Homo sapiens: one gene and its partner. The protein of the gene in region 1 interacts with the protein of each later gene in a biochemical or structural test. Each region holds a gene or a part of one and is shown on either strand. Other genes may lie near its edges.

Region 1 (10,755 bases):
AAAAAATCTAGAAAAAATATTTGTTTTCTGTAATAGAATTATGTTCAACCTTCAAATATTGAAAAGAACATCTCTCAAATAAATTAAAGACTTTTTTGATGAAGTATTTTAGTTCAAAAATTTAGTTCAAAAATTGAGTTTCAATATCTGAGAATGAAGATTTGAGTGGTGAGTAATATTGTGGCACAAACATTATTTTGAAATAAATTACAAAAAAATGTAAGAACACATAACAAGGAGATGATTTAGTATATTTTGGTCAAAAATATTAACATATATTTCACAAGAAGAGGTAGTCCCAAGCTTAGCAGTGGGCAAGAGGCTCTGACCCCTTGGCGGATCATCAAGAGAATCGTGTGTACATTTCAATAAAGAGAAGAGAAGAAGCCTAGTGTACAATATCTAAAGTCATGTGGCATAAAGGAGAACAGACATTATTAGCTATGTGGGGAAGATGAATATAAACGGAGAAGAAACAAACTCAATAGTCCAATAAAGTCTCTGGATAGTGACACAAATAAGGAAAGTGTTAAAATGAAAACCTCAGTCTTATTGGAAATGAGGAGAAATAAACTAAAATAGTCATGGTAACCGTTTAGTGAAAAGAAAAAAGGTAAAAATAAAATGTGACTTTTTTGTACACATTTTCTTGATCAGTCTCTTCCAGTAGAACTGAGGCTCCATGAGGGAGTAATATCAGGACTGTAATATTTTGTTCATTGCTGCGGTCCTGGTCCCTAGACAGTGTCTGGCAAGAACAGATTCTAAAGAAATATTTTTAAGTTAATGAATAAATCTTTTTTTAAATTTTATTTGTCTTTTGAAATTATTATTATTATACTTTAAGTTTTAGGGTACATGTGCACAAAGTGCAGGTTTGTTACATATGTATACATGTGCCATGTTGGTGTGCTGCACCCATTAACACGTCATTTAACATTAGGTATATCTCCTAATGCTATCCCTCCCCACTCCCCCCACCCCACAACAGCCCCGGTGTGTGATGTTCCCCTTCCTGTGTCCGTGTGTTCCCATTGTTCAATTCCCACCTATGAGTGAGAACATGTGGTGTTTGGTTTTTTTGTCCTTGCGATAGTTTGCTGAGAATGATGGTTTCCAGCTTCATCCATGTCCCTACAAAGGACATGAACTCATCATTTTTTATGGCTGCATAGTATTCCATGGTGTATATGTGCCACATTTTCTTAATCCAGTCTATCATTGTTGGACATTTGGGTTGGTTCCAAGTCTTTGCTATTGTGAATAGTGCCGCAATAAACATACATGTGTATGTGTCTTTATAGCAGCATGATTTATAATCCTTTGGGTATATACCCAGTAATGGGATGGCTAGGTCAAATGGTATTCCTAGCTCTAGATCCCTGAGGAATCGCCACACTGACTTCCACAATGGTTGAACTAGTTTACAGTCCCACCAACAGTGTAAAAGTGTTCCTATTTCTCCACATCCTCTCCAGCACCTGTTGTTTCCTGACTTTTTAATGATCGCCATTCTAACTGGTGTGAGATGGTATCTCATTGTGGTTTTGATTTGCATTTCTCTGATGGCCAGTGATGATGAGCATTTTTTCATGTGATTTTTGGCTGTATAAATGTCTTCTTTTGAGAAGTGTTTGTTCATATCCTTTGCCCACTTTTTGATGGGGTTGTTTGTTTTTTTCTTGTAAATTTGTTGGAGTTCATTGTAGATTCTGGATATTAGCCCTTTGTCAGATGAGTAGATTGCAAAAATTTTCTCTCATTCTGCAGGTTGCCTGTTCACTCTGATGGTAGTTTCTTTTGCTGTGCAGAAGTTCTTTAGTTTAATTAGATCCCATTTGTCAATTTTGGCTTTTGTTGCCATTGCTTTTGGTCTTTTACACATGAAGTCCTTGCCCATGCCTATGTCCTGAATGGTATTGCCTAGGTTTTCTTCTAGGGTTTTTATGGTTTTAGGTCTGACATGTAAGTCTTTAATCCACCTTGAATTAATTTTTGTATAAGGTGTAAGGAAGGGACCCGGTTTCAGCTTTCTACATATGGCTAGCCAGTTTTCCCAGCACCATTTATTAAATAGGGAATCCTTTCCCCATTGCTTGTTTTTGTCAGCTTTGTCAAAGATCAGATAGTTGTAGACATGCGGCATTATTTCTGAGGGCTCTTTCCTGTTCCATTGGTCTTGGTATCAGTTTTGGTACCAAGTACCATGCTGTTTTGGTTACTGTAGCCTTGTAGTATAGTTTGAAGTCAGGTAGCATGATGCCTCCAGCTTTGTTCTTTTGGCTTAGGATTTACTTGGCAATGTGGCCTCTTTTTTGGTTCCATATGAACTTTAAAGTAGTTTTTTTCAATTCTGTGAAGAAAGTCATTGGTAGCTTAATGGGGATGGCATTGAATCTATAAATTACCTTGGGCAGTATGGCCATTTTCATGATATTGATTCTTCCTACCCATGAGCATGGAATGTTCTTCCATTTGTTTGTATCCTCTTTTATTTCCTTGAGCAGTGGTTTGTAGTTCTCCTTGGAGAGGTCCTTCTCATCCCTTGTAAGTTGGATTCCTAGGGATTTTATTCTCTTTGAAGCAATTTTGAATGGGAGTTCACTCATGATTTGGCTCTCTGTTTGTCTGTTATTGGTGTATATGAATGCTTGTGATTTTTGCACATTGATTTTGTATCCTGAGACTTTGCTGAAGTTGCTTATCAGCTTAAGGAGACTTTGGGCTGAGACGATGGGGTTTTCTAGATACACAGTCATGTCATCTGCAAACAGGGACAATTTGACTTCCTCTTTTCCTAATTGAATGACCTTTATTTCCTTCTCCTGCCTAATTGCCCTGGCCAGAACTTCCAACACTATGTTGAATAGGAGTGGTGAGAGAGGGCATCCCTGTCTTGTGCCAATTTTTAACGGGAATGCTTCCAGTTTTTGTCCATTCAGTATGATATTGGCAGTGGGTTTGTCATAGATAGCTCTTATTATTTTGAGATATGTCCCATCAATACCTAAATTATTGAGAGTTTTTAGCATGAAGTGTTGTTGAATTTTGTCAAAGGCCTTTTCTGCATCTATTGAGATAATCATGTGGTTTTTGTCTTTGGTTTTGTTTATATGCTGGATTACATTTATTGATTTTCGTATGTTGAACCAGCCTTGCATCCCAGGGATGAAGCCCACTTGATCATGGTGGATAAGCTTTTTGATGTGTTGCATAAATCTTTCCATACATATTTATAACTTCTTTATGCCTTTTGAAAAATTCAATACTGTAAATGGGACTTTTTTAAAAGTGGGGATAGAGTTGTTAGCTGAAAAATCTGAATAGCTGGCAATGAAGTTTGGAATTTGAAAAATGAGAATCGCAAGCCAGAATGGATTTTGACCTCCTTCATGTGATATAACTTCTATTTAGTATTTATTCTATTTATTTTCTAAATGCAGATATTTTTGTTATATATTATCTCTCTTTTTTTTTTGTTTTATAAAAAGTAACCTTACCTACATAAGAAAGTATATCCAATTGACCAATCTTCCACCATTCCATTTTTTCTACATTCACAGGACTTAGTAGCCATGAAGGTCCTCATCCTCGCCTGCCTGGTGGCTCTTGCTCTTGCAAGGGAGGTATGTGCACAAGAAAAAATTCCTAAACAATCAATAAATAGTGGACTATATGCTTATTTGTAGAGAATAACATCACCAACATTTTTTACTGTATAAATAATGAAGAATTTCATGAGAATTCTCTTGGCTTCTATCAAAATCATTTATATTTACCCACTGTCTCAACAGTTTCCTATAGTGCCCCAAATGCTTCCTGCACCAATGTGCTGCTAGTCACTAAAGAAAAAGCAAACAAATCAATAAGTAATAAAAAATCATAAAAATGGCAACGAAATATAATATTGCATAAATACAACTCCAAAGATTCTCAAGCTAGATAAATATATCTTATTCCAGTGATAAAATGTATATATACCTTACAGCCTAGGGCACTGGGTCAAATCCTGTGTCTGTCTGTACAAAGACATCCATGGGATGAAGTACAGAGACAATCATAATCATGATCATAAATATATTAATAATAATATAATAAAAATATTTAATACAAATTAAAGTGACTCTTCTTTTACCCATAAAAAACTCTGTCTTTAATAAATGTAAGATAAAAATATATTAATAGATTACTAAATATAAAAGACATTAAAGTAATTACCTTTTAAACCTCAAAAGTCATATAACATTTTTTATTTCTCAAATTTGTGAAAGAGATAGCTCTGCATAAGTGATGTAAAAATTAAGTAGGATGCATGTTTAACAATGAGTTAGCTATAGAAGTTGAATTTTTAAACATCTTTTCAGAAGGAACAATCCAATGCATCCTCTGAGGTGAGATTATTTTTTTAGAGAAAATTTATGAACCATAAAATAGTAAAATTCTCTAATGATCTAGAAGATTTAGCTGGTTGTCAATTTTTTTTTCCCACAGACCATAGAAAGCCTTTCAAGCAGTGAGGTAAGTTAACATTCTACCCAATTTTAGAACAGTAAAATCCTGTGCTATTTTTCTATGGTGTTACATCATGGCAGTTAAGCTAATGCAGCTATGTTAATGACATATAAGTTCTAGTACATATTTCTTTTATGTGTGTTTAAGGACAATAAGTATCTGGATAATACAACATTCTAGAACTTTGTAAATTGGCTTGCTACTTGAAATTGTGTTATTTTGCTTCTTTTTTTTTTAATGAACCATATTGTCCTGTTTTCTGCCTTGAACTCTCTTTACTCTGAACTTATTCACCTTAAGCATATACTGACGGCCTTCTATGGGTCAGACATTGACTAGGAGCTGTGGTACAAACTGAAAAGTTAGAGATGCCAGTGATAGTTAAGAGCTTGCTAAGTAGTAGGTAGGCAGACGTGCAAAAAGGACACATTTTATAATTACAATAGCCACTTTAGTAAATAAGCGAGATTTAGTGTAGTCCTAAATTTACCTGAGAGAGTCAGGTAGATATTTATTCTTACACCACTCTTCTTGGGTGTGTGATCACTTGATAAGTAAATGGTACATCAATAGATTCTGTCTCTTCAGAAAGGTTATATGATCCTTAAGGGAAGTGTTTAACTCTTATGATTCATTTGAAGTGATCATAATGTATCAATTGTTATTAGAATATATTTTCAATGAGTATTTCTTTTTTTAAAAATCAGATGGGGTTTTAGATATCATTTGTTGTCAGGGAATGAGCATGGTGGTAGAGAGAAATTAGCATCTATTAATTGCTTTTTTTTGTACCATGTCCTTCTTGACTGCATTCATCTGACTTTCTTTTACATAACAAGCTCATATAGAACAGTTTAATACATAAGTTTAATGATTATACAAAGTTATTAATGATATTATCAAAGAATTAATGCCTTTATTTCCTGATTTATATTGCAAAGTAAGAATTGTTAAAACTAAACCTAATTTTATTTTATATTTTTCTGTAGGAATCTATTACAGAATACAAGGTAAATTTTCACATTTAAAATGTACACATTTTCAAAATTTCCTCCTTTTAATCTTTACAGATGGTAACATATCTTTATATATGATATATCTTTAGCAGAAAGTTGAGAAGGTTAAACATGAGGACCAGCAGCAAGGAGAGGTAATTTGTTAATGATAAGTATATGTTTAAAATTATTATAAAGTATAATACATACAAAAATATTTATAATGTGTATGTTGATTCTAAAGAATGATAATAAAATAAATGCCATATACCCACCAACCACTTTAAAAATTAAACATTGATAAAGTCAATATATTTTCTAGGATATGCATGCATTTTTAAACTCATAATTAATTTCTAGAATACAGACTAAATACATAATGATATTACTAATGGTATATCTGTTTTCAACAAGTACACATTGGTGGGAACATTTCCAGGTTGGGAACTATGATCCTCTTATTTCCAAGGTGGATATGGTAATGAAAAGGTGTATACGGCTGGTAAAAAAACCTATGTAAAATTTGTCCCATATTGCCTTTATTCCCATATGGACAACACAAAATCCTGTATTTCATTAAATTACATTTATGGTGATATGTTTACCCAATTATAATTTTCAATTGCTTTGTGTACCAATGAATTGTTTGGAGTCACATAAAATATTTCTAAAATCAAATTTAAACAAAAAAATTGATGTCTCTTGAAAGACTCAAGAGACTATCTTCTCCCAAGGGAAGGAATGTAAGAATTTGGCCGGTGTTAAATTACTTCCTGAGATTAGCCACAAATTAAGACTGATTTTCTTTTTCATCAAACCAAAACAAAACAAAAATAAACCTTGGAATTGTCCCTCTAAGTCTTTTTAAACTGATCTCTTTTCACTGTATGAAAACAATTTGGTCTACTATTGGCACAACTGTGTTGAAAAGTAAATTCTCTCTGAAGACCAAAGTGTACAGCTACAGCTATCCAGGCAATTCAGGAAAATGTTAAAAAAAGTGTTTCTGAAATATCCAAACATTGATTTCACTTTGGCCTGTGGAGTTACCCATGAAGTGAGTGGATTAAAATTTTTCAACAAACAGTTTACTCATTTTTCTTCGCATGACTCAAGATACTTTCTTAACCAAAATAAGTGAAATATTTTCTCCTCTCTTTTTACTCATTTATCATTGTCTAAAAGAGAGAAATGAATTCATTATGAATGGCAATTATAGCTTAATCAAGGACTCAAAGATTCTTTTTCCTTCTTTCCAGGATGAACACCAGGATAAAATCTACCCCTCTTTCCAGCCACAGCCTCTGATCTATCCATTCGTTGAACCTATCCCCTATGGTTTTCTTCCACAAAACATTCTGCCTCTTGCTCAGCCTGCTGTGGTGCTGCCTGTCCCTCAGCCTGAAATAATGGAAGTCCCTAAAGCTAAAGACACTGTCTACACTAAGGGCAGAGTGATGCCTGTCCTTAAATCTCCAACGATACCCTTTTTTGACCCTCAAATCCCAAAACTCACTGATCTTGAAAATCTGCATCTTCCTCTGCCTCTGCTCCAGCCCTTGATGCAGCAGGTCCCTCAGCCTATTCCTCAGACTCTTGCACTTCCCCCTCAGCCCCTGTGGTCTGTTCCTCAGCCCAAAGTCCTGCCTATCCCCCAGCAAGTGGTGCCCTACCCTCAGAGAGCTGTGCCTGTTCAAGCCCTTCTGCTCAACCAAGAACTTCTACTTAACCCCACCCACCAGATCTACCCTGTGACTCAGCCACTTGCCCCAGTTCATAACCCCATTAGTGTAAGTCCAAATTTACTGGCTTTGCTGTTTCATTCAAGATGTGTATGTGATGGTAGAATAAAAGAATAAATGTAGAGTAAATGAATTAAAAAAACAGTTTAGATAAGTGATTCTTTTATTATTATACTTTAAGTTTTAGGGTACATGTGCACAACATGCAGGTTAGTTACATATGTATACATGTGCCATGTTGGTGTGCTGCACCCATTAACTCGTCATTTAACATTAGGTATATCTCCTAATGCTATCCCTACCCCCTACCCCCACCCCACGACAGGTCCAGGTGTGTGATGTTCCCCTTCCTGTGTCCATGTGTTCTCATAGATAAGTGATTCTTAATGCTTACCTATACAATAGAATCACCTGGAGAACTTTTCCCCACAAATCCCAATGCCTAAGCTTACCCAGAGATTCTGATATAATTGTTCTAGTTTTTTGTGTAGAGGAAACTGAGTGTTGAGAAAAAAACTATTGCATGAATTCTGGTTTAATTAGTCTGTTGAGAATTCTGATTTAGATAAAGTAATTAAGGCTTACAAAAGCCGGAATTAAATTTAATAATATGATTGAATTTGGAAAAAAAAGCTAAAAAATGTTCTGTCATTTTCCTTGTGCACATCTCTTTTACACAAGCCTTACTTCACATCTTGTTTTTGCTATAAGTATATATGAAGGCAAAAGACTGAGATGCTTATTTCACTACTTACAACATTCTTAAGGCAAGTTTTCTTACTAAGAGGTTATTTATTTATTTATTTATTTATTTATTTTACACAAGCCTTACTTCACATCTGGTTTTTGCTGTAAATATATATGAAGGCAAAAGACGGAGATGCTTATTTCACTACTTACAACATTCTTAAGGCAAGTTTTCTTACTAAGAGGTTATTTATTTATTTGTATCTGTTTATTTTTAAGGTCTAAGAAGATTTCAAAGTTAATTTTCCCTCCTTATTTTTGGTAAGTTTTGGGAGTTTGGAGATTTAATTGATCATTTTTATACATGATGTCTTTTTACATTTAATTCTCCTAGAGAAGTCCAATACAGTGAAAATTTCATACATACAAGAACTTTTTTTATTAATTATCAATTTAATGGTTGACTATCATTTACTGACCTGAAACTATCTATCTTTTGCATTTCAAATAACTTTAATTTTATTTATGTACTATTGACAGATTTGACTGGCTTGCTTTCAAGGGCCTATATACTTACATTTGATTATCACTATTTTTAGGAAAGACAGAATATATACTTATTTTACTTTTATGGAAATACATTTGAGCTTTTGTCAAAAGCCTATTTGCATTTTTATTTCTAACCTAGCCTTCATAAAATTTGTATTTACTTTACTTAAAATTATCTTTTAATTCATGAGTTAAAATTACTCCAAGTGTAAAGGTTAAAAAGAGGAGAGAACAGCATTGCAATTCTAAGATATAAAGCCTTTTGGGATTATGAAATACCAGACATTTCACTGAAACAATTTCAAGTTCACTAATATTTGATGAACTTTGGTGAAGTTTGGTGAACAAACTTTACATGCCTCCAAACCGCAACAGAATGCATTTGCAATACAATTTCTTTTGTGAATTAGTCACACCAAAGTTAAAAGTGAAGAGAGTTGAATAGTTACGTGTTATAACATAACTAATTATATATTTGCTCTCTATTCCACAGAATTGACTGAGACTGGAAATATGATGCCTTTTCCGTCTTTGTATCACGTTACCCCAAATTAAGTATGTTTGAATGAGTTTATATGGAAAAAATGAACTTTGTCCCTTTATTTATTTTATATATTATGTCATTCATTTAATTTGAAATTTGACTCATGAACTATTTACATTTTCCAAATCTTAATTCAACTAGTACCACAGAAGTTCAATACTCATTTGGAAATGCTACAAACATATCAAACATATGTATACAAATTGTTTCTGGAATTGTGCTTATTTTTATTTCTTTAAGAATCTATTTCCTTTCCAGTCATTTCAATAAATTATTCTTAAGCATATTTCAGTTCTTCTGTCTTTTTTTCAAACCTAATCGGCCTCTTTAATGTTAACTTTGATTTATTATTGATGTTCAAAATAATCCTGGAAGAATGCTTTGAAATTGAATAGAATGTTTTGAATTGAATATTAAAAGATATCAAAAAGTGGAGGAAAAGAAAGGATGCTTTTATACTCCATTTGCTATAGAAAGTTTTGGGTTATGCCTATTTTCCCAGTGTCATTATTATAGCTATGCCTTTCACTTTCAAAATGATCCAGCATTGGATGTTAAATTTTGTGGTGACCCTGGGAAAAAAACTTTAAATGTGAAACCTGAAACACAACTTGCCACAGGTAGCTATGTGATGTTGTAAGAGCTTTAATTGCCACATGGATAAAATAGTGCAAAGAATTTTACTGAAGATTTGATTACATATTAGTAACATGATGAGTGTACTGTATAGTAAATGATAGATGATCCCTATTGCTCCACATTGCTGACATTGCTTATACCACAGCACCAAAGCATTCTAACAAATCAAAATGAACTGGGTAATGTGGTGTTAGCCAGCAACGCTGAAGAAAGTAAGGGATGTGAAACTCTGACAGCCATTAATTCTAACTGTGAAGTAGTTGTTTATTGTGATTGATTTTCTCTCTTTCTATACCAACTCCTCCACTTGTACATTCAATTATATCTTCCTGAGTTTATGCAGTGACTCATGTCTAGCAATTATCCCATCTTTCTTATATTTCCAGTGTTTCCCTGGCCCTTATTACAACATAAGCATCATGGAAGACCTGCTTATACTATAATATCTCCCATCATTAAAGAAAAAATCTGCTTCCTTAACACTGTACCTCCAAACCTCTCCCAATTATTTAGATTATATCAATTGTCATACTAAAGTAACCATAGGGTTGTTTCCATATCTCATATCTTATTCTGTTATTAACCCACTCCAATCAAAATTTCATCCCTCACTGAAACCACTTCTTTTCAAGGTTACCAATAATTTTCATATTGCTAATTTGTGTTCATTTTACCCAACCTCTCAGTGTTATTTGGTAGAATGTGTCGTCTTTACTTCTTTGAAACATCATTCTTCTTTTCATTTGAAATCCTTAACCTAATAAACCCTTGGTTTCTTCTTTAATACTCTAAACACTTCTCAGTCTCCCTTCTTGTATTTTCTCCTTTTCCAAATCCTTAAGGGTTGGAGTGCCCTAGAGATTAGCCTTACCCTGGCTGATCCTGTTCACTTCCCTGGCTTTAAGTACATTCTTATGCTAACGACTTCCAAATCTCTATCTCCAGACTTATTTCTTTTGTGAACTCAAAACTTATGTACTCAACTGCCTTCTTGATCTCCGTATTTAAGTATCTAATTAAAATATCATACCTGGCATGGCCTAGCATAGCTCTTAATCTGAATCCAGTCCCTAACATGATCTTTAAT
Region 2 (8,091 bases), on another chromosome or scaffold:
CTGGGATTACACGCGTGAGCCACCACACCCAGCCTCCATCTTTAAACTTTTAAATGTGAAATTTCTATCATGTACCGTTAGCCTAACAAGATTTTCTTTCCTATTTCTGACTGGTGCCTTTCCCCTTTTTAGGAGCAACGAAAGCTACTCTCTTAGTTATGTTCTTGTGATGTGACAAAATGTCAAGAAGATAGGAGAAGAGAATATTTTATTTCGTTGATGCTTTTGTTCCCAAGTGTGACCCTAAACTTAAGCTTTGTAGGAGTTGACATTCTTTCATGTCCCTTCCCTTTACTCATGCCGAAACTATCAACTGGGACATTTTGTGCTTTTGGTTTAAAAGTTAATTGATATTATACTTTGGTTTTATCTAAAAAGTAAATGTATTTGCCTTTGACAAAAGACTGACACAAGAGCAAATAAGCTTTAAAATCGGGTGTTATGTGCTTTCCTCCATTTTTGAGCATATTATCCAAAATGGTCTGTATAATATAAATGAGAATGATGCAGTTTAAGTAAGCCTTGTTATACCATTGTCATGGACCCCTGTCATAAAGCCATTTCTTGGTTTGTTTGGGAAAGAGGCATATGGGATTTATACAGATTCACTTGTAAATGTTGGATTGGGGATTTTTGTGTAAATTTTCTCAAATAAAGGCTAGCAGAAACCATTTTAGGTGTACTGTTACTCTTGAGTACTTCTATGTCTGGATTGGTGATAATTCTTCCATATTTCTCTTTTAAATTATGGCAAATTATACCTGATGAATTAGAGAAAAAATATTGTTATTCTTCAGTTACTGCAGATCGATAGTTTATATGAGCTAGTAAAAGATTATCATATTTTGTATGTAATATATGTAAATTATATATATATATATAATTAAGAATCCTTAATTATGCATCCTCAGACCAAATATGGTTCTGTAAGCTAGGCATTTTATTCTCTTTATCTTCTCTCTTTTGGAAACTGTTACTATTAGGTTCGCACAAAAGTAATTGTGGTTTTTGCAATTAAAATTGCAATTGCATAGAATCACTCCTACAGAGAGCCATCTCCCCTGCCTTTCATTCCTAAAAGACCCCCACCCCCCACCCCCGGTATATGAATCCTCAGGACTCACTTTTTAGGCCTATCATATCCAATGCAAAACCCCACTCCAGGAGGTAAACGTCTTTTCTCCTCTCCTTTCACTTACAGTTGAACATTTTTCACAAAGCGACTTTCCAAGAGCCAATATGAAGTGCTTTGCACACCCACTGGCTGGCCTCTTATTTATCCTCTTATCTCCATTCTCCCTCAAATAAATTTTATTATGAATCCATAGTGTGTAAAGTAGTGGTTCCCATTATTGGGGTATAATTTTTTTTTCTTTTCTTTTTTTTTTTTTTTGAGACGGAGTTCACTCTTGTTGCCCAGGCTGGAGTACAATGGCATGATCTCGGCTCACCACAACCTCCGCCTTCCGGGTTCAAGCAATTCTCCTGCCTCAGCCTCCCGAGTAGCTGGGATTACAGGCATGTACCAGCACGCCCAGCTAATTTTGTATTTTTAGTAGAGATGGAGTTTCATTATGTTGGCCAGGCTGGTCTTGAACTCCCAACCTCGTGATCCACCCACCTCAGCCTCCCAAAGTGCTGGGATTACAGGCGTGAGCCACCGTGCCCGGCCCAATACATGCTTTATAAATCATTTATTTAGTCTGCTGCAGTGGTGTCTCATAAAATGTTGAGCTGCATGTATAATTTTAAATTTTCTAGTATCACATTAAAGAAGTAAAAAACAGGTAAAATTTGCTGATTCTCCAGCCTCCCGAGTAGCTGGGATTACAGGCACATGCCACCACGCCCAGGTAATTTTTGTATTTTTAGTAGAGATGGGGTTTCACCATGTTGGCCAGGATGGTCTCGAACTCCTGACCTCGTGGTCTGCTCACCTTGGCCTCCCAAAGTGCTGGAATTATAGGCATCAGCCACTGTGCCCAGCCGAAAATTATTTTTAGTAGTGTATTTAACCTAATATACCCAAAATATTATTTCAACATATAGTTAATATAAAAATGGTTAATGAGATGTTTTGCATTCCATTTTTCATATAAAATCTTGAAAATCCAGTGTGCATTTCAAGCTATACCGCATCTATAGCTTAAAATTAGACTAGCCACAATTCAAGTGTTGAGTAGCTATATGTAGCTAATGGCTACCGTGGCAGACAGTGAAGGGTATAAACTTGGGTTGGTCTTTGGTAGATTCTTTCATCTTGACAGTAACTCTATGGCCCCTGGGAATTTGCCATTCACAAATTGGAAACTAATGCAAAATAGCATTCTAACCATTCACTTGTTAAAGTACAATGTGGAAATAGTTTGGTTTCAACCAAAGGCGCTTTAAAATTTTACACCTTGGCCAGGTGCAGTGGCTCACACCTGTAATCCCAACACTTTAGCAGGCCAATCACTTGAGGTCAGGAGTTCGAGAACCAGCCTGGCCAACATGGCAGAATGCCCTCTCTACTAAAAATACAAAAATTAGCTGGGCATGGTGGCGGACGCTTGTAATCCCAGCTACTCAGGAGACTGAGGCATGAGAATCACTTGAACTTGGGAGGTGGAGGCTGCAGTGTGCTGAGATCATGCCACTGCACTCCATCCTGAGTGACAGAGTGAGACTGTCTCCAAAAAAAAAAAAAAAGTTATACCATTAGAATAAATGTTGACTATTTTTGAACTTATAAATATTCAAAGGTAAGACAATTAGTTTCAGTTATATCCAATATAATGAAGAATTCAGCAGGAATGTCTCTGCTCTATAATAGGACATGTTTCTTCTAGGCTTGTAGTATCTATGCATTATCATTAGAACAATTCAGTTTCAGGCCAACCACGTTATAGAAAACTAGTTCCTCGTTGCAAAGGTGCCAGAAAAAAATGAATTTTTAAGCTTAGGCTGAAATCTATTCAGCCTCTTTGAAAGTCAGCATTCCCAATTTTAAGTAATTGGTTTTTTCCCATTCAACTGAGAAACAATTTATTGAGCATCTTTTCTGTTTAACAGAGTTAATCGAGAATAACAGAATTAAGTTAATAGAATTAACAGATTTAAGCCAAACTAAACTCTGGAGTTTATCTAGATAAACAAGAGGCAATACCTATCCTCAAAGTGCCTTCTAATTAATAGGAGGATGTAGATGGAATGGCCTCTACCTGAAATGATCTCTCTACTTTGTTTAGACTTAACATTTTGTATATTCCTGCACTCACACAGCAAGTTTGGCTTGGACAGATGCCACTCCTAAATGCCTCTCTAGAATCTTGCACTTTAATAGCCCTTATAGAAACTGTTTTAATTGCCTGGTGGTTTTCTGTTACATGTAAGCTCTCTTAAAGTAGGAACTTTTCACAAATCGATATGACACAATGTATTTTTATGTATTTGAGACAGGTTCTCACTCTGTTGCCCAGGCTCGAGTGCAGTGGCATGATCTTGGCTCACCGCAACCTCCGCCTCCCCAGTTCAAGCAATTCTTGTGCCTCAGCGTCCCAAGTAGCTGGGATTACAGGTGTGTGCACGCCTGGCTAATTTTTGTATTTTTAGTGGACACGGGGTTTCACCATGTTGGCCAGGCTGAACTCGAACTCCAGGCTTCAAGTGATCGGCCCTCCCAAAGTGCTGGGATTACAAGTGTGAGCCACCACGCCCGGCTAGGCACATGGCTTTCTCTTAGCCCCATCACATCCTGCTTTTTCAGATTGCTGGGTTCAACTTCCCAGCTCCCTCTTACTAGGTCTGTCACATTAAGCAGGTTACTTAGGTACCTCTGTTTCTGTAAAATGGGAATGTTAGGATAATACATAATACATAATACATAGGATAATACATAATAATGTGAGATAATACGTAAAAAACCTTTAGCATAGTACCCAGAACATAACACTCAATAAATGTTAGCTGTTATGTCTGTGATGTAGACCACATTCTCACAACAAAACAAGCTTGGAGATGAGAAGTTGCCCAAGGTCACATAATTGCCCAAGGTCACATAACTGATGGAACACCTATTGTTCACCGTATTGCTGTTTTCCTACTTGACGGTAGGGAGAACATTATTGCAGATTTCCTGTTCCCAAACAGTGTGTGGCACCAAGTGCTCAAAGAATGTTTCATGATATCATATGGTCAAATATCTGGAAAAACACATAGAATAAATTGAATCTGGAAAAAGAGACGGGGGAGAAGGAAAGTGTCAGGAGAGTTGACTTAAAATATTTTTGGAGTTGTGTAGAAGAGGGAGGGACTTAGGATGGCCCTGGGAGAAAGAACTCGGCCCAGGGACCGAGATGACCGGAGGCAGACATTTAGGCTGTCTATATTATTATTATTTTTTTTTTTTTTGAGACAAAGTCTCGCTCTGTTATCCAGGCTGGAGTGTAGTGCGCGATCTCGGCTCGCTGCAACCTCCTCCTTCCGGGTTCAAGTGATTCACCTGCCTCAGCCTCTGGAGTAGCTGGGATTACAGGTGCCTGCCACCACGCCTGGCTAATTTTTGTATTTTATAGAGACGGGGTTTCACCAGTTGGTCAGGCTGGTCTCAAACGCCTGACCTCAGGTGATCCGCCCGCCTCGGCTTCCTAACATGCTGAGATTACAGGCGTGAGCCACCTTGCCCGGCCATATTATCTTTACTATACTATCTCTCTAAAAAAGAATGCTGTCCAACGTTGGAATGGGGAAGAAGGTGTACACTGGGAATGCTTCCCCAATCACCCTCTTGTCACAGACCTGACGTCAAGATGAGACTGGACGACCTCTGGGCCTCCAAGTTGTATGAGTCCGGACCGGGGAGGCAGAGAAGGGTCAATAGACCCGAGAGGCCGTACCGTCAGTGATGCCCTTGTTCCCGTGGGAGCCCTTCGGTTCCACGCGGTTCCCACCACGCGCCCGCCAACCCTAGCCCGAGGCCTCACTTTGCAGGCCTTCCCCGAAAGCGGGAAGCCTTGGCCGCTAGACTAGCCAAGAGGGTAAGCAAAGGCGGAGGAAACTCAGCCAGGCCGGAAACACAGAGAACTGTTTCCGGGTCGGGGGGCAGGAGCCACCATCGAGCTTCGCGGGGTTGCTGGGCTGACGGATCCGCGGGCCGGCATCTGAAGCGAGCGGGACGCAGCGCGGCCAGGGCCTCCGGGCATACGCAGGCTGGTCCCCAAGGCCCGCGGCCGCCGCCATGTCGGTGCTGGGCGAGTACGAGCGACACTGCGATTCCATCAACTCGGACTTTGGGAGCGAGTCCGGGGGTTGCGGGGACTCGAGTCCGGGGCCTAGCGCCAGTCAGGGGCCGCGAGCCGGCGGCGGCGCGGCGGAGCAGGAGGAACTGCACTACATCCCCATCCGCGTCCTGGGCCGCGGCGCCTTCGGGGAAGCCACGCTGTACCGCCGCACCGAGGTAGCGGCCCTCGGCGCCGGCCGCCCTGTCTGGCGCTGTCGGGTCGCCCCGAGTCCCTCCTTCTCGGCCCCGCTTTCCCAGCGTCGTGAGCTTAGTGCTTTAGGCGCCCACGGGGTATATGTCTTAGGGTCTTCACCACTCTTCCCACTCACCGGCACTAGAAATTGGCTAGATCATTGGTTTGACTAGTCATTTTTGATTGTCCTAAGTCACCTAACCGTCTCTTGAGCTTTAGTTTCCCCATCTGTAAAATGGGCTTACTGATAATACCTTGAAATCATCTTTTTCTTTTTTTTTTAAGATTATCTTGAGAATCAAACGAAGGCTCTGTTCTGTAAATTAAAGTGGTATACGAATGTGAGGTATTGCCAAAACTTCCTTCCTCTCATGCTGTATATATAGTTCTCCAAGGTCGGGGTGAGGAGGAGGGGCATAGCTTCAAAATCCCCACACCCGTGGCAACTCCGTTATTTTTGTCATTATCTTTAAGTTCAGCAGTGATCACTCAGTTGGAAGCTTTTCTTGAAGCTCATTGGGAAGATCTTTGTGTGTTGGTTCTTTATCAGTGTTTATCTTGCAGGGTTTATGCATGGGAAATACTTTGTTGGTATATTCTAAGCCATTAGTTCTTAATTTGGGGGGCACAAGGACCCCTTTGATAACCTAAGCAAAGTAATCTTGCCCCCTCCATCAACACATTTGCACATATGCACATCCTTTGGAGAGATCCATGGATCACGGAATCCCAAGTTAATATATACTAGTGTAAAACCCTGCAGTGATTATTCTACTTCCAAAAACTAACGATACACTAGATTTGATCATAAAATCTTACTTTAGGGTAAACATTTAATGAGAACTTGCTGGGGTTGCTGAAGGTGATTCATCCGTCGGAAATCCATCTGCAGTTCTGGTGTGTGTTCCAAGCCAGCATACTTTTAAGGCTGAAAGATGGAGAAGGAGAGAAGTGGTTGCAAGAGAATATTTTTAAGTGTTCTTTTTTATCCTGATGCCACGTTAATGTATGATGTTAGAGTTAGTTATTCTTAGTAGTCTGTTTTCTTTTTTGCACTCAAAATGAGAAAGAGGAGATAAGGATTGTTATTTCTATATTTTAGTTAGAGAAACTAAAACAGTATACTTAAGTGACTTGCTCACTTAAGTTACAAGTAAATCTTGGACTAGAACTAAAGTCTCACATCTTGCCCATTGCCTTTTTATTATTATCCTGTTGAACTTGATTACTGGGTTGGTTTTGAGTTAAATTTGATTACACTTCCCAAAAATTGCATAGCGTTGTCCATATCACCAAATATTTATTAGATCTGTGAATTTACAAAAGTTCAGAAGCACTCTTTTTCTCTAGAAGCTTATATTTCAGTAGGAAAATAAGTTGACCATTGTTAGTAAACAAATAGCATTAAGTTGCATATGTAGAGATATGAAAAGAATGAACAAATATCATTTCAGTGTATGGGGTCTAAAAATTAAAGACATGGTTACAGTAAAAGCTTCATCAGAGTCTTTTCAAAAACACTGTAAAGGCTTGGCAGAGGCATTCAAAAGGATGGGGAGGGTTACATAGGTGGAGATGCTCCTGGGCTAGGAAGCAGGGTCAGCAAAGAATGAGGCGAGGCACAGTGGCTCATGCCTATAATCCCAACACCTGGGAGGCCAAGGTGGTCGGGTCGCTTGAGGCCAGGAGTTCTAGACCAGCCTGGGCAACACAGTGATACCCCATCTCTTAAAAAAAAAAAAAAAAAATTTAGCTGAGTGTGGCAGTGCGTGCCTGTAGTCCCAACTACTGGGGAAGCTGAGGTGGGAGGATTGCTTCAGCCCAGGAGTTCAAAGCTGAAATGAGCTATGACTGCACTCTAGTTTGGGCAACAGAGTGAGACCCTATCTCTTAAAAAAAAAAAAAAAAAAAGATAGTAGACATCAGGAGCTACAGGATACATAAAAGTATGAGAGGAGATTATAGAGTTGCAAAAGGGGTCATGACTTCTCTTATCCAGAAAGGGTAGGTGAAAATCACTAGGGAAGTCTAAATTTATAAAACTAGAGGCAAGTTTAGTATTTTCATTTTAGAAGCTGGGACCAGCTATAGATAATTGCTCCCCAGTTCTCTGCTTCTCCAGTATTCTTGCCCTGCCATAATCACCATCATGATTAGCAGTCTGTCATAGTATCCTCAATAGAATCTTTTTGAGATCTATCCCCAGCCCATATTTTTACCTGGAACTGACATCATGCAAATTAAGTATGACAACAACGTTTTAATGCTTTACTTCCCCTGTCCTGCAATAAATTATAATGCTAAATTGTACACATAACCTTTAAAGTCTGTTAAAAGGAAAAAATAAGAGGAGTCAGTCTGTGCCCCTCTAGGAAGTTTTCCTTCTAGGCTTACAGATCTAGGTGTGGATTCATTTGCTGCCAGGCAAGAGGAAAAGCACGATACCTCTGTTACTGTGTTTAGGATGACTCACTGGTTGTGTGGAAGGAAGTCGATTTGACCCGGCTGTCTGAGAAGGAACGTCGTGATGCCTTGAATGAGATTGTTATTCTGGCACTGCTGCAGCACGACAACATTATTGCCTACTACAATCACTTCATGGACAATACCACGCTGCTGATTGAGCTGGAATATTGTA

What was found.
Region 2: of the proteins of CSN2 (region 1) and NEK9, one has a biochemical effect on the other in vitro, tested with the Homo sapiens proteins (one study listed by BioGRID).

What each region holds. Positions count from the first base shown.
Region 1 is NC_000004.12:69,953,816-69,964,570, reverse strand, and holds the end of CSN2 (beta-casein isoform 1 precursor), read left to right. Parts: intron 1-3,563; 5' UTR 3,564-3,575; coding exon 3,576-3,626; intron 3,627-4,491; coding exon 4,492-4,518; intron 4,519-5,501; coding exon 5,502-5,522; intron 5,523-5,617; coding exon 5,618-5,662; intron 5,663-6,766; coding exon 6,767-7,297; intron 7,298-8,215; coding exon 8,216-8,221; 3' UTR 8,222-8,257; intron 8,258-8,978; 3' UTR 8,979-9,315; downstream 9,316-10,755. UniProt on the Homo sapiens protein: Important role in determination of the surface properties of the casein micelles.
Region 2 is NC_000014.9:75,124,049-75,132,139, reverse strand, and holds the start of NEK9 (serine/threonine-protein kinase Nek9), read left to right. Parts: upstream 1-5,091; 5' UTR 5,092-5,218; coding exon 5,219-5,437; intron 5,438-7,916; coding exon 7,917-8,091.